2 linked regions of the Homo sapiens genome follow. The protein of the gene in region 1 purifies or fractionates together with the protein of each later gene. This does not show direct contact. Each region holds a gene or a part of one and is shown on either strand. Other genes may lie near its edges. The genes, in order: CREBRF and ATF1.

Evidence for each region.
Region 2: the proteins of CREBRF (region 1) and ATF1 purify together in Homo sapiens (affinity purification with mass spectrometry; 2 studies listed by BioGRID and IntAct, with this or other methods). This does not show direct contact.

The regions. Positions count from the first base shown.
Region 1 is NC_000005.10:173,059,065-173,066,351, forward strand, and holds part of CREBRF (CREB3 regulatory factor), read left to right. Parts: intron 1-1,348; exon of another isoform or gene 1,349-1,444; intron 1,445-7,287. UniProt on the Homo sapiens protein: Acts as a negative regulator of the endoplasmic reticulum stress response or unfolded protein response (UPR). Represses the transcriptional activity of CREB3 during the UPR. Recruits CREB3 into nuclear foci.
Region 2 is NC_000012.12:50,815,955-50,821,803, forward strand, and holds the end of ATF1 (cyclic AMP-dependent transcription factor ATF-1), read left to right. Parts: intron 1-3,680; coding exon 3,681-3,825; 3' UTR 3,826-5,208; downstream 5,209-5,849.

The sequences.
Region 1 (7,287 bases):
TGGGATTACAGGTGTGAGCTACTGCGCCCGGCCTGATTCATCAATTTTTGTAGTACTTTGGCATGACTGACTCAGTTCTGTTAATAATGATACATAAAAACGTAATCCCTGATTATTTGATAAACTTGAATTCTTACGTATAACTTTTGCAGTAAATAAGGGTATTAGCTTATTTATCAGTTCTTCTTTTTCTTTTTTTTCTTTTTTTTTTTTTTTTGAGACGGAGTTTCGCCCTTGTCGCCCAGGCTGGAGTGCAGTGGGAAGATCTCGGCTCACTGCAATCTCCGCCTCCCGGGTTCAAGCAATTCTCCTGCCTGAGCCTCCTGAGTAGCTGGGATTACAGGCGCCCACCACCACGCCCGGCTAATTTTGTATTTTTAGTAGAGACGGGGTTTCACCATGTTGGCCAGACTGGTCTTGAACTCCTGACCTAAGGTGATCTGCCTGCCTTGGCCTCCCAAAGTGCTGGGATTACAGGCGTGAGCCACCGCGCCTGGCCTATCAATTCTTATTTTATCAGGTGGCATTGTGTTGCTTTTGGAACCCTAGCCCTTACAATGCCCTAATTAGTTTAACAGAGAAGTATAGTGAAAATAAAAATAAACACTTTTCATTGATACTTAGAATATTCCAGGCAGTTTTCACTGTTGCATCGGTTGATAAAGTCAATCAGCATTGCTTATATAATGCTCTCTTATTCTAAGAATGGCAAATAGATGCAATAGAACTTATTTGGGTATAATTCCTTCATATGACTGGTATATCAGCTTTGGGTTTTTTATATTCATAAGCATAGAAGAGGCTAAATAGCTCCCGAAGAGAGTCTGGATGCTCCATTTACCATCATTCTCTGTCATGGCAGGTGAAAGCAAGCTTTTATATAGACAATGTTCTACTTAGTTTACAGGGTGTCTACTTAGTTTACAGGGTGGATGTGTGTGGGTTCTGGGATACTAGTGTAAGAAGTAAAGGAATAACTAGCATGGTTCCTGGTGGTGGTTAAATACAAGTGACAGTGAAGTACAGTAAGTTTGTGTGTTGATTCTGTTAATATAACTCAGTTTTTAAAAGATAAAGAGAACTGAAATCACTGTTTGCTTTTAAAGCTTAATTTTCAGTCAAGATCGGCATCTATATATTTATTTAAAAAATACATATATATATATATGTTTTTTTTTTTTTTTGAGACGGAGTCTAACTGCGTTGCCCAGGTTGGAGTCCGGTGGCGTGATCCTGGCGCACTGCAACCTCCGTTTCCTGGGTTCAAGCGATTATCCTGCCCCAGCCTCCCGAGTAGCTAGGATTACAGGCGTGCACCGCTATGCTCAGCTAATTTTTGTATTTTCAGTAGAGACAAGGTTTCACCAAGTTGGCCAGGCTGGTCTTGAACTCCTAATCTTAAATGATCCGCCCGCATTGGCCTCCCAAAGAGCTGGGATTACAGGTATGAGCCACCGTGCCCCCTCTAGTTATGTGATTTTGAAATGAATTAGCAGTCGCTTGTTTCCAAGTAGGGTTGAACTTGGATTTTTTTGAGGAACAATTCACTGACACTTTCACCATATTCAGTAGCTCATTTCGGGATAGGTAAACTCTTAGACGAGACATAAATTTGTCAGATAATTGGTTCTGATTATTTTAAGACAAGGGTTGACAGACTTTTTTTTTTTTTTTGGAACAGGATCAAATAGTTAATATTTAGGCTTTTTCAGCCTTCCAGTCTCTGCCACAACTACTCAACTTTGAATCTGTAGCATGGAAACAGCTGTAGAAAATATGTTCTACATATTTTTGGGCTCTATTCCAATAAAACTTTATTTACAAGGTCAGGCTGTGCCTCTATTTGTGCTTCCACGGCTATAGTTTGTCAGCCCCTGTTGTAAGACATCAGTCATTGAGGTTTTTTGTTTGTTCGTTTTTTGAGACAGAGTCTAGTTCTGTCCCCCCTGCTGGAGTGCAGTGGCACGATCTCGGCTCACTGCAACCTCCGCCTCCCGGGTTTAAGCGATTCTCCTGCCTCAGCCTTCTGAGTAGCTGGGATTACAGGCGCCTGCCACCGTGCCCAGCCAAGTTTTGTATTTTTAGTAGAGACGGGGTTTCACTGTGTTGGCCAGGCTGGTCTCAATCTCCTGACCTCCTGATCTGCCCGCCTCAGCCTCCCAACGTGCTGGGATTACAGGCGTGAACCACCACATCTGGCCCAGTCACTGAGTTTTAAGTACTTAGATGTTAAGGTATTTCAGAATATACAAATAGACACTTTAGGTACATTTGAGCATTTGCAGATTGTACAGTCTCCTGCCTTGAAGAGAATTTTTAGTACAAGAGCATATGGCAACATTGTATTTTGTATTTTTCCTTCGTTTACATATAAATGTTTTCTTGAAAAGCTGTTTAAAGCAAATATTGGTATAAATCCTGTTGATTTTAGAGATGCAGTCTGATTGAAAAAACTTTGGCCCTAAGATATATTCAGGATATGGTCCTCTTGAAGTTTCAAAGCACATTTAGCATATAATCCTTAACAAAGCTGTATAGCTGTTTCAAGAGATGATAGTCACGTGAATAGTCAACACATGTAGTTCTTATATTCAAATATGCAGTTAATTTAGAAGTTAAGACATTGAGTGCTCATTGCCTGAGATGCTTGAAGAATTAAAGAGAGTAGGATGCTTTTTCCAGGCCCAAAAAGATACAGGTTACCTCCTCTCTTTTTCCAGGGAAAATGTCAAGTCGTGCTAAGTGCCTAGTGAAGCAGAGATGCCGTAATCTAAAAATATAACTGGGAAATACTAAATTTTTTTGATAACTTTTGCTTTATTTTTAATGTAATATTTCACCATTTTTGTTGACTTGAACTGGATTTCAAGTGGAAGCGTAAAAGTTTAGAAAAGAGAATATATTGACCTTTATGAACTGAGAAACATGTGGCCTGCAATCTTGTTTCTAGATCTAGCTAACCTAGGGTCTGCCTGGATGACTACAGATAATCTCAGTTTATTAATTTGTAGTGGTAGGGATTAATGATGTTTTCCATCTCACAAGGGGATACTGGGAAATTTTTAGTTACTGTATTCTTAAAGTCTTGTACTTTGAATATGCTAATATTTCGGTCTGCTTGAAACCACTTCTCAAATCTGGATTCGATTTTCTCCTGGCTTATTTGTCTTCCCATTAAACTATGAGCTCCTTGAGGTCAGAGTCTGTGTTTTATTTCTATATATTCACTGCCTCACACTGTGCCTGATACCTTTTAGTGCTCTTGAACTGTTTAAATGAATGCATGCATTGCTGAGAACTGCTTATCTGGAAAGTAATAAAGTCTACTATTAGAGATGTTGGGCTTTTCTTAGTTAGAAAGGAGGAATTAATCACCGTCTGTTCAAACAAAAAGCCTTCATTCTAAAATTGATCCGTTCTTTTAAGAAAGTTTTTAGAGAAGCTATTTTGATGATGTTTAAAAATCTCTTTAGTTCCTTTGTTAATTTGTTTTCAGATGAACTCCATTAGTTAGACTTGTTGAATATTCCTTGCAGGTATTAAAAAAAAAAAGTTGTGCTTTGTTCTTTGGATTTGTCCTATTTGGCAAATGTGGATGGAATCTCTTATTTCATACAGGTTTGGGATAATTTTTCATCTACATAGTAGGGTCTTTTTTTAAGGAGGGCACTGTAAAATCATTCTTTTTTTTTTTTTTTTTTGAGACGGAGTCTTGCTCTGTCGCCCAGGCTGGAGTGCAGTGGTGGGATCTCGCCTCACTGCAAGCTCTGCCTCCCGGGTTCACGCCATTCTCCTGCCTCAGCCTCCCAAGTAGCTGGGACTACAGGCGCCCGCCACTACGCCCGGCTAATTTTTTGTATTTTTAGTAGAGACGGGGTTTCACCGTTTTAGCCGGGATGGTCTCGATCTCCTGACCTCGTGATCCGCCCGCCTCGGCCTCCCAAAGTGCTGGGATTACAGGTGTGAGCCACCGCGCCCAGCCTGTAAAATCATTCTTGCTAATAAGTCTGACTCACCTCTGTGGGGTAGGCTAGGATTTGGATCGAGTTTGACGCAGGGTGCGGCAGTAGTATCACCAGCCAAGCCTTATATGCATTTCACCAATTTATGACCTTTCCTCCAAAATCTATATTGTAACTCTCCTTCCTAAACAGCTTTCTAAACTACTGCTTTCCGTACTTAACTCTTGGCAACATAAATCATCCTACACTCTGTCCTTTCAACACCAAAACCACTTTTATATCTTTTGGGTATTACTGATTTTGAGAATTTCCTATGAAAGCCTCACAAATTTCCTGATTTCTTCTTCTCTATTTTTTTTGAGACAGAGTCTCACGCTGTTGCCCACGCTGGAGTGCAGTGGCGCCATCTCGGCTCACTGCAACCTCTGCCTCCTGGGTTCAAGCGATTTTCCTGTCTCAGCCTCCTGAGTAGCTGGTATTACAGGAGCACGTCACCACACTCAGCTAATTTTTTGTATTTTTAGTAGAGGTGGGGTTTCGCCATGTTGGCCAGGCTGGTCTTGAACTCCTGACCTCAGGTGATCCACCTGCCTTGGCCTCTCAAAGTGCTGGGATTACAGGCGTGAGCCACCACACCTGGCCTGCTGATTTCTTTTTCTTAATTTTTAATTTCTTGATTAAAAAGAATTTTTGTTCTTTTTGACTTTTTTTTTTTGAGGCGAGTCTTGCTCTGTCACCCAGGCTGGAGTGCAGTGGTGTAATCTCTGCCCCTGCGACCTTCGCATCCTGGGTTCAAGCAATTCTCCTGCCTCAGCCTCCCAAGTAGCTGGGACTACAGGCACCTGCCACCATGCCCGGCTAATTTTTATATTTTTAGTAGAGACAGAGTTTCACCATGTTGGCCAGGCTGGTCTTGAACTCCTGACCTCAAGCGATCTGCCTGCCTTGGCCTCCCAAAGTGCTGGGATTACAGGCGTGAGCCAATGCACTGGCCTAAAGTTTTTTTTCTTAAAGACTAGTGTGATAGTAAAGCTTGCTGTTTTTTTTGTCCTCCAGTTTTTTTTTAGATTCTTGTTGTACATATGTTTTCTTCAGTATAATATTTTGTCCTGAGGGTTTGAGGTGCTCCTTTTATAAAAGCAGTTTCTTTTTTGGCTGCTGATGGAATTGCTGCCTTTTCTATTATAGGTTAGTCATTTACTGAGAAATTTAAAGCATTACAAAAATAAAACGTTGATATGGGGAGGAATTAGGGGTAGGGTGGGTGTACTTTTGAAAAGATTCATTGTAGAATTCCTTAAAACAGCAAGGCTTCTAGCATCCTAGTGGTATGGTATAAATGAGGTGGACTCATGCAGTTTTTGTTGTTGTTGTTTGAGACAGGTCTTGCTCTGTCACCCAGGCTGAAGTGCAGGGGCACGATCACGGCTCACTGCAGCCTTGACTTTCCAGGCTCAAGCAGTCCTCCTGCCTCAGCCTCCTGAGCCTCCTGACTATCTGGGACTACAGGTGCGCACCACCACACCTGGTTAATTTTTTTTTTTTTTTTTTTTTTTTGAGACAGAGTCTCGCTCTGTCGCCCAGGCGGAGTGCAATGGCACAATCTCGGCTTACTGCAACCTCCACCTCCCGGGTTCAAGCGATTCTCCTGCCTCAGCCTTCCAAGTAGCTGGGATTACAGGGATGTGCCACCATGCCCAGCTAATTTTGTATTTTTAGTAGAGTCGAGGTTTCTCCATGTTGGTCAGGCTGGTCTTGAACTCCCCACCCCAGGTGATCTGCCTGCCTTGGCCTCCCAAAGTGCTGGGATTACAGGTGTGAGCCACTGCGCCTGGCCCACCTGGCTAATTTAAAAAATTATTTGTAGAGAGAGAGTTTTACTATGTTTCCCAGGCTGGTCTTGAACTCCTGAACTCAAGTGACCCTCCTGCCTCAGCCTCCCAAAGTGTTGGGGTTACAGGTGTGAGCCACTGTACCTAGCTGTACAGTTTTTGAACTGCTTTTTAGTAAGGTTTTCATCTTTACCTTTGAATCCTCTACTAGAGTTGCCCATAGACTAGGAGAGGAGACACACATTGCAGCCCAATGTTACGATGGTTTTTCAGAACAAAATGTTCTGAAATATGGAAGAAGGACTGCTAACTCTGCCTGGGGAAAGTTGAATATTCATTGAAAAAGTGGTGTTTGAACTTAGTTTTGAAGATTAGTGAAGGAGGCATTCTAGTACAGCTGAAGTATAAAAGATGTGTAGTGTGGGGTTGGGTATGAGATGGTTTGAGCTAAGGCAGAGGTGGGAGGGAGAATGGAAGAGGAGGAAACTGATGTGTAAGATTTAGGAGGAAATAGCTTTTTTTGCTTTCACTTTGTCCTCTAATTCTCTTCAGTCTGTTCTATGCTGTCAGGTCTCCAGTCTCTTTTCCCTGTAGCTCCCTGTACCTCTGACTTTGGTTGATTGGTTTTTTCCCCTAGTGTTCCATTTTTCTTTTAGTCCCACCTTTTCTAATGTGTTGGTACTAAAGTACCTTTCATTCTGACTCTATTTGTCTCTTGCGTTTATTTCACCTCCCACCCTCCCTCCCTCTCTCTCTTTATTCCCTTTGGGTTATATTTCTTTCCTTTTCTTTTCCTTTTTCTTCTTCTTCTTTTTTTTTTTTTTTAAAGACAGGATGGTGCAGTGGCACAGTCATGGTTCACTGCAGCCTTGACCTGGGGCTCAAGTGATCCTCCCACCTCAGCCTCACGAGTAGCTGAGACTACAGGTGTGTGCCACCATGCCCAGCTAATTTTTTTTGTAGAGACAGGGTTTCCCCACATTGCCCAGGCTGGTCTTAAACTCCAGGGCTCAAGCCACCCACCCACCTTGGCGTCCCAAAATGTGCGATTACAGGCGTGACCAACCGCACCTGGCCCCTTTGGGTTTCTCTTTGCCCCTACCTTTCCTTTTTATTTGCTTTATTTTATTTTTTATTTTTTTTGAGATGGGGTTTTGCTGTGTTGCCCAAGCTGGCCTCAAACTCCCGGTGTCAAACAATCCCATCTCAGCCTCCTGAGTAGCTCAGGCTGCAGGCGTGTGCCACCTCTCATTATCTTTTATTTAAAAGCAAAACAAAATAAATTCTTGCGCACTATCTGCTTATTTTACATGTAAATAGCAAAATAAGCTGATTCCCTCTTGGGAAATCTTGTAAGATCAACTAGCTTTTGATACCTGTTCAAAGACTAATTATCCATTTCTGTGAATTTCTTTTTATGAAACATTTTCCTTTGTATTCAAAGATGCTACTTCTTCAAAGGCCACAGTGTAGAATGTGACTGCCTATGTGCC
Region 2 (5,849 bases), on another chromosome or scaffold:
TGAAATAAGCCAGGCACAAAAAGAAAAAATATCACATTCTCACTTATATGTGGGAGCTAAAATATTTGAACACATGGAAGTAGAGAGTGGAAAAATAGGGCTGGGCGTGGTGGCTTATGCCTGTAATCCCAGCACTTTGGGAGGCCGAGGCGGGAGGATCACTTGAGCCTAGGAGTTCAATGCAAGCCTGGGCAACATACCCATTGCTACAAAAGATAAAAAATTAGCCAGGCATGGTGGCGTGTGCCTAAAATCCCAGCTACTCGGGAGGCTGAGGTGGGAGGATTGCTTGAGCCCAGGGGGTTGAGGCAGCATGATCGCACCACTGCACTTCAGCCTGGGCAACAGAGCAAGACCCTATCTCAAGAAAAAAGAGAGAATGGAAAAATAGGTAACAGAGACTGGGAACGGTGAGGGGCAAGGAGGAGGATGAAGAGAGTTAAAGGGTACAAACCCATACACAGTAAGATAAAAGGAATAAATTCAGTGTTTCATAGCAGAGTAGGATGACCACCCTTAACAAAAACCTATTAATACTCAGGTGATGGACACCCTGAATCCCCTGACTTGATCGCTACACATTATATACATGTAACAGATTTTCTCATGTGCTCCATAAATATGCACAGAAACATTTTAATGGAAAAAACCATACAGGCCAGGCGTGGTGGCTCACACGTGTAATCCCAGCATTTTCGGAGGCCAAGGCAGGAGGATCACTTGAGCCCAGGAGTTTGAGACCAGCCTGGGCAATATAGGGAGACCCCATCTCTAAAAAAAATTTAAAACATTAGCTAGATGTGGTAGAGGCAGGAGAATCACTTGAACCTGGAGGCAGAGGTTGCAGTGAGCCATGATCACGCCATTGTACTTCAGCCTGGGCAACAGAGCAAGACTCTTGTCTCAAAAATAAAACAAACAAAAAAAAACACACAAGTAGTTAATAATCATATAAAAGACTACTCAGCCTTATTAGTAATCAAAGAAATACACATTAATGCTACACATTTAGATACCCTTTATACCCACCCAATTGGCAAAAATTTTAAAGTCTAACCAAGAGTTGGCAAGGATTTGGAACAATGGTCAGGAATTCATAGATACTACTATAGGAGTGTAAATTGATGCAGCCATTTTGGAAATTAGGCCTTATCTTGTACAGTTGACGTGGGTATACTCTGTGACCCAGCTGTTTTAGTCTGTGTGACTGAGAGGAACTTGGAGGAAGTATGTATAAGAATTTTCATAGCAGCAAAAAATCAGGAAACAACCTCAAGATTCATTGATAACAGAATAGGTACATATTGAGCCTAAACATAAAAATGGGGGGAAAAAAGAATAGGTACATAAATTGTGACTGTATTTATAGAATGGAATGTTTATTTGTAATGACTGAATGAATAATCATTTCAACATGAATAAATCTTAGAAAAATTGAATGAAAAAACAAGTTGCAACAGAATACACAAAGTATGATATTTTATAATTTTAGAAAATAAATGATAGCAGTTTTAGGGTCATATACGTATATACTACAACTATAAAAATAAGAAATGAGATGTCACGTAGCAAAAATTATAAAGTGGTAATACTGTCTGTCATTGGGCATATAAGGAAAAGGGTACCTCACATACATTACTGAGGGAAGTACGGAGTTTTATGGTATCTACTTGCCCCAACATTTCTACTTGTATGTGACAAAAGATACCATAAAGAAACTTAAAAATAAGTCTGTTAACTGGGAAAAATATTTGCAACTTTTATATAAAGAGAAAGAATTACGAGATGTATAGGTTATATAAAGATTTATTTCTGTAAATAAGAGACCTAACAGAAGGAAACCGGTCTGTGAAAGATGGCCTTGTAAACATGAAATTATTCCAAACTTTGTGCATAATGAGGGAAATGTTAAAGCAGTGAGGTTCGCTTTTTGTCAGCCGCTAGACTGACAACCATTTTAAAATGTTCATAACAGGCACTCTCATGTACTGCCCCTGGGAATGTAAATGGTACAAATACTCTGGAGGACATTCTGGCATTTTTTCCCTTTTTTCTTTCTGGTTTGACTCTGGGATTTTTTTCCTTCCTTTTTTCCCCCCTTATTTCTCTGTACTTCAATGAATATAAATTGGCACTATCTCTTGACTTTAAGTGAATATAGCTTGTGATCCTTCAAGAAATACATGTGTAGAAATACACGTAAAGAATGGAGGCTGAGTGGGTGGCTCATGCCCATAATCCCGACACCGTGACCAGGAGTGAGACCAGCCTAGGCAACATACTGAGACCTCATCTCTACAAAAATAAAATTAGCTGGTGTGGTGGTGTACACCTGTAGTCCCAGCTACTTGAGAGGCTGAAGTGGGGATATCTTGAGTCCAGGAGGTCAAGGTTGCAATGAGCTGTGATTGTGCCACTGCACTCAGCCTGGTTGACAGAGTGAGACCCTGTCTCAAAACAAAAGAAGAAAAAAGAAAAAGAATGTTTACTGGAAACCACTTAAAACAAACAAACAAACAGAGCTTAAAGGTAAAAATAAAGTCTTTTTGTGAGGGGAAAGATTTTGTACAGTCCTTTTAAAGATGTGTACTAAAAAGCAAGTTGCAAATAGTATCTACATATATAGCATAAAAATCTTAAAATAGTACTGTTTCTTTCTTTCTTTCTTTTTCTGAGACAGAGTCTTGCTCTGTTGCCCAGGGTGGAGTGCAGTGGCGCGATCTTGGCTCACTGCAACCTCCACCTCCCAGCTTCAAGTGATCCTCCTGGGTCAGACTCCCAAGTAGCTGGGATTACAGGCATGTGCCACCACAGCTAATTTTTGTATTTTTAGTAGAGATGAGGTTTTGCCATGTTGGCCAGGCTGGTCTCGAACTCCTGACCTCAGGTGATCTGCCCGCCTTGGCCTCTTAAAGTGCTGGGATTACAGGCATGAGCCACCATGCCTGGCCAATACTTCCGATTTCTATATGTATATAAACTTACATATGACTTCACAGAAATGTTTTAAGAGGACATGCACAGAACTGAGTATTTGCTCAAGCATTGTTTGTAATTTGAACTTAAATAAAAGAAGTCATGTGTCAGAAGTTAACCAGAGGACCCATAATTTCACTCTTTGGTATTTATTCAAGAGAAATGAAACCTTTCTACAAAAAGACTGGCACAAAAACATGCCTATGCAGCTAACCCTAGAAACATCGCAAGAGACTGGATACACAAATGGTGGTTATATTCATACAGTGAACTATGTCCAGCAGTGTGAAGGAACAAACCCCCATGCAGCAACATGGATGAACCTCAGATGGGCTGAGTGAAGGGACACCAGAGTACATAGTGTATGACACTCTTACATGAGGTTCTAGAATAGGAAAAAAACTAATCTCTGGTGATAAAAATCAAAACGATAGTTGCTTGGAAGGGGGCTGACCAGGAAGGGGCATGAGGGAACTTTCTGGGACAGTGGGAATGTTCTGTTGTCTTGACAGAGGTGTGGGTTATACAGGTATACACAATTGCCAAAACTGACTGAATTCTACACTTAAGATCTATGTATTCTCTGTGTGTAGATGATACTTTAAAGAGAAAAAAAGGTGACCACGGAAAATTACTGAAGAACATTTACCATTTAAAGAATGTGAAGTTTTTTCTAACATTGTTTTTTTAATGCTCATATTTAGAGAAGCTGCTCGAGAATGTCGCAGAAAGAAGAAAGAATATGTGAAATGCCTGGAAAACCGAGTTGCAGTCCTGGAAAATCAAAATAAAACTCTAATAGAAGAGTTAAAAACTTTGAAGGATCTTTATTCCAATAAAAGTGTTTGATTCCTAAGAAAGAAAATATTTTTGTGGACATGCATAAAAATTAAATGGATTTCCTAGTGGAGTTTTATAAATTAAAAGGTCAAAACTGAAGCTTTTTATTTAGGCTTTTCCAAATCAAGGATAAATATCTTACGCACGATATCTAGTGACAGAGGAGAAAGTGGAAAATGACCTCAAGGAAGCTACGGGCACAACTGGAAGCTTTGTAGAAATTAAACATATTCAAGGAGCAAGAAATGAACTTTCAGCAGTCTAAATTTTCTAAATAACCAATAGTTGCCAATCTAAAATGGCAGAGAAGATGAAATTTGATAAACTGAATTTTTTTTAAAAATCCATTTACCCTACAGGTTTGCATTTGTTTGCTGAAATTTACCTTTTTTTAGTTATATATATGTGTGTGTGTGTGTGTAATTTCTGCCAATAAATTCTAAATTACAAAGGTAAGAGAAAACCTAGTACATTACTAAATATATAAAGTATATGTTCTGATTATGTATACTTGTTCTAGTGTCAAGTCTTTTTAAGTGGGTTTTTAAAAGTTTGTTATTGGACTTGAATGGATTTTTGAGACTAGGTTAATTATTTTTGAGGTCTTATCCTAAAAGGCATCTAAGGTACATGAATGGAGTATGGTGATTTTATAACATTTTTTATCAGAATGGAAAAAGAACTGTTTAAAAGTTTGATACTTTTAAATAGTTGGTTTTTTTGCTTACTCTGGTAATGATTTTCTACAAATACATAATAAATTGTTTTTTTGAGTCTATATTCTGTATGCAGTTGAATATCCATTACTTATTCTGCTGTGCTTTAATAGAATGGAATGTTTACAGGCCCTTAAAATATTATTTTTAAAAAACCTTCTGAAGATACATACCAAAGTTTTTCCAAGAAGATTTTATAATCAATTTAATAATGTAAGGTTTATCAGATTCTATAATAGTATAGTTATTAAGGCAATTTTATGTTAGAGACTATTTTGTAATGTAGTGAGTGGTACCTTTATAAGAAAAGTGACTGCCAATATATTTTTATAGCTGATCTTTATAAATTCTAATGTTGAGTTTTTAATGATTATTTTAAATGTTTATATAGTTTAGTAAAATTTGCATCTCAAAGTATCATTTTTATATTATGGGACGTTTTCAGATTGGCTAATATTTGCATTGTAAATTTTGTATGCAGTTTATCTAAAATTCAAAAATACTGTCAGTACACCAGCGTTTAACATCTATATTCCAATTTGTATACAGTTTAAAATTGTACTGCAAAACTATTGTGTGCTCTTACACAGTATGCATCATATTGTTGTCTGTGAAATTAAAGGACATTTGATAGTCTACTGAATGTAAAATATAATGCTTGGTATATGAATGATAAGCTTGCTCCTGGCCATGCTGTTAATTATCCTAATGCTACGTAGAAATCTTCACTTAACTGATACATTTGTGTTTGACCCTCCTGATGAAATTTCTCATTAGAAGGGTCTTTTAAAATGGGACTCTGTTGACTTGGCAGCACTTTATGAAAAGAAAAAAAAGTTTGATCGCCAGGGGGATTACTTATATCACTTACTACCTTGTGTAAAGCCAGAATCTCAAACTGGTGGCCCGTTAGGCCTAAGAATATGAGGAGGTATGAGGTCACTGGGTTATGTCAAAAGACTTTTTCAACAGATGATAATATATTATTGGGTAGACACCGTGCTTGTTTACAACAGAGGTAGCCTAGCTCTTAGTGCCTTAACAGCTGGACATCTGCAAATATTTGTAAACTCTGCTGCCTTCAGACTTCTGGTGTAGGGCCTTGCTAACTAGACCCAGTTACTTACTCTAGCTGTATGAAACAGGTCAGGGCAAACCATTAATGGTTCCATAAATGCATAACAAATTATTTTCCTGGGTGTTTTTCTAATTGGAATCCAATGTGGGGCTTATCAAATTTTTAAGTGATTATAGTCCAAACATGAAATTAGACTTCCAAAATGCAAAAGACTAATCAAATTATTTCCTTAGTTCAAC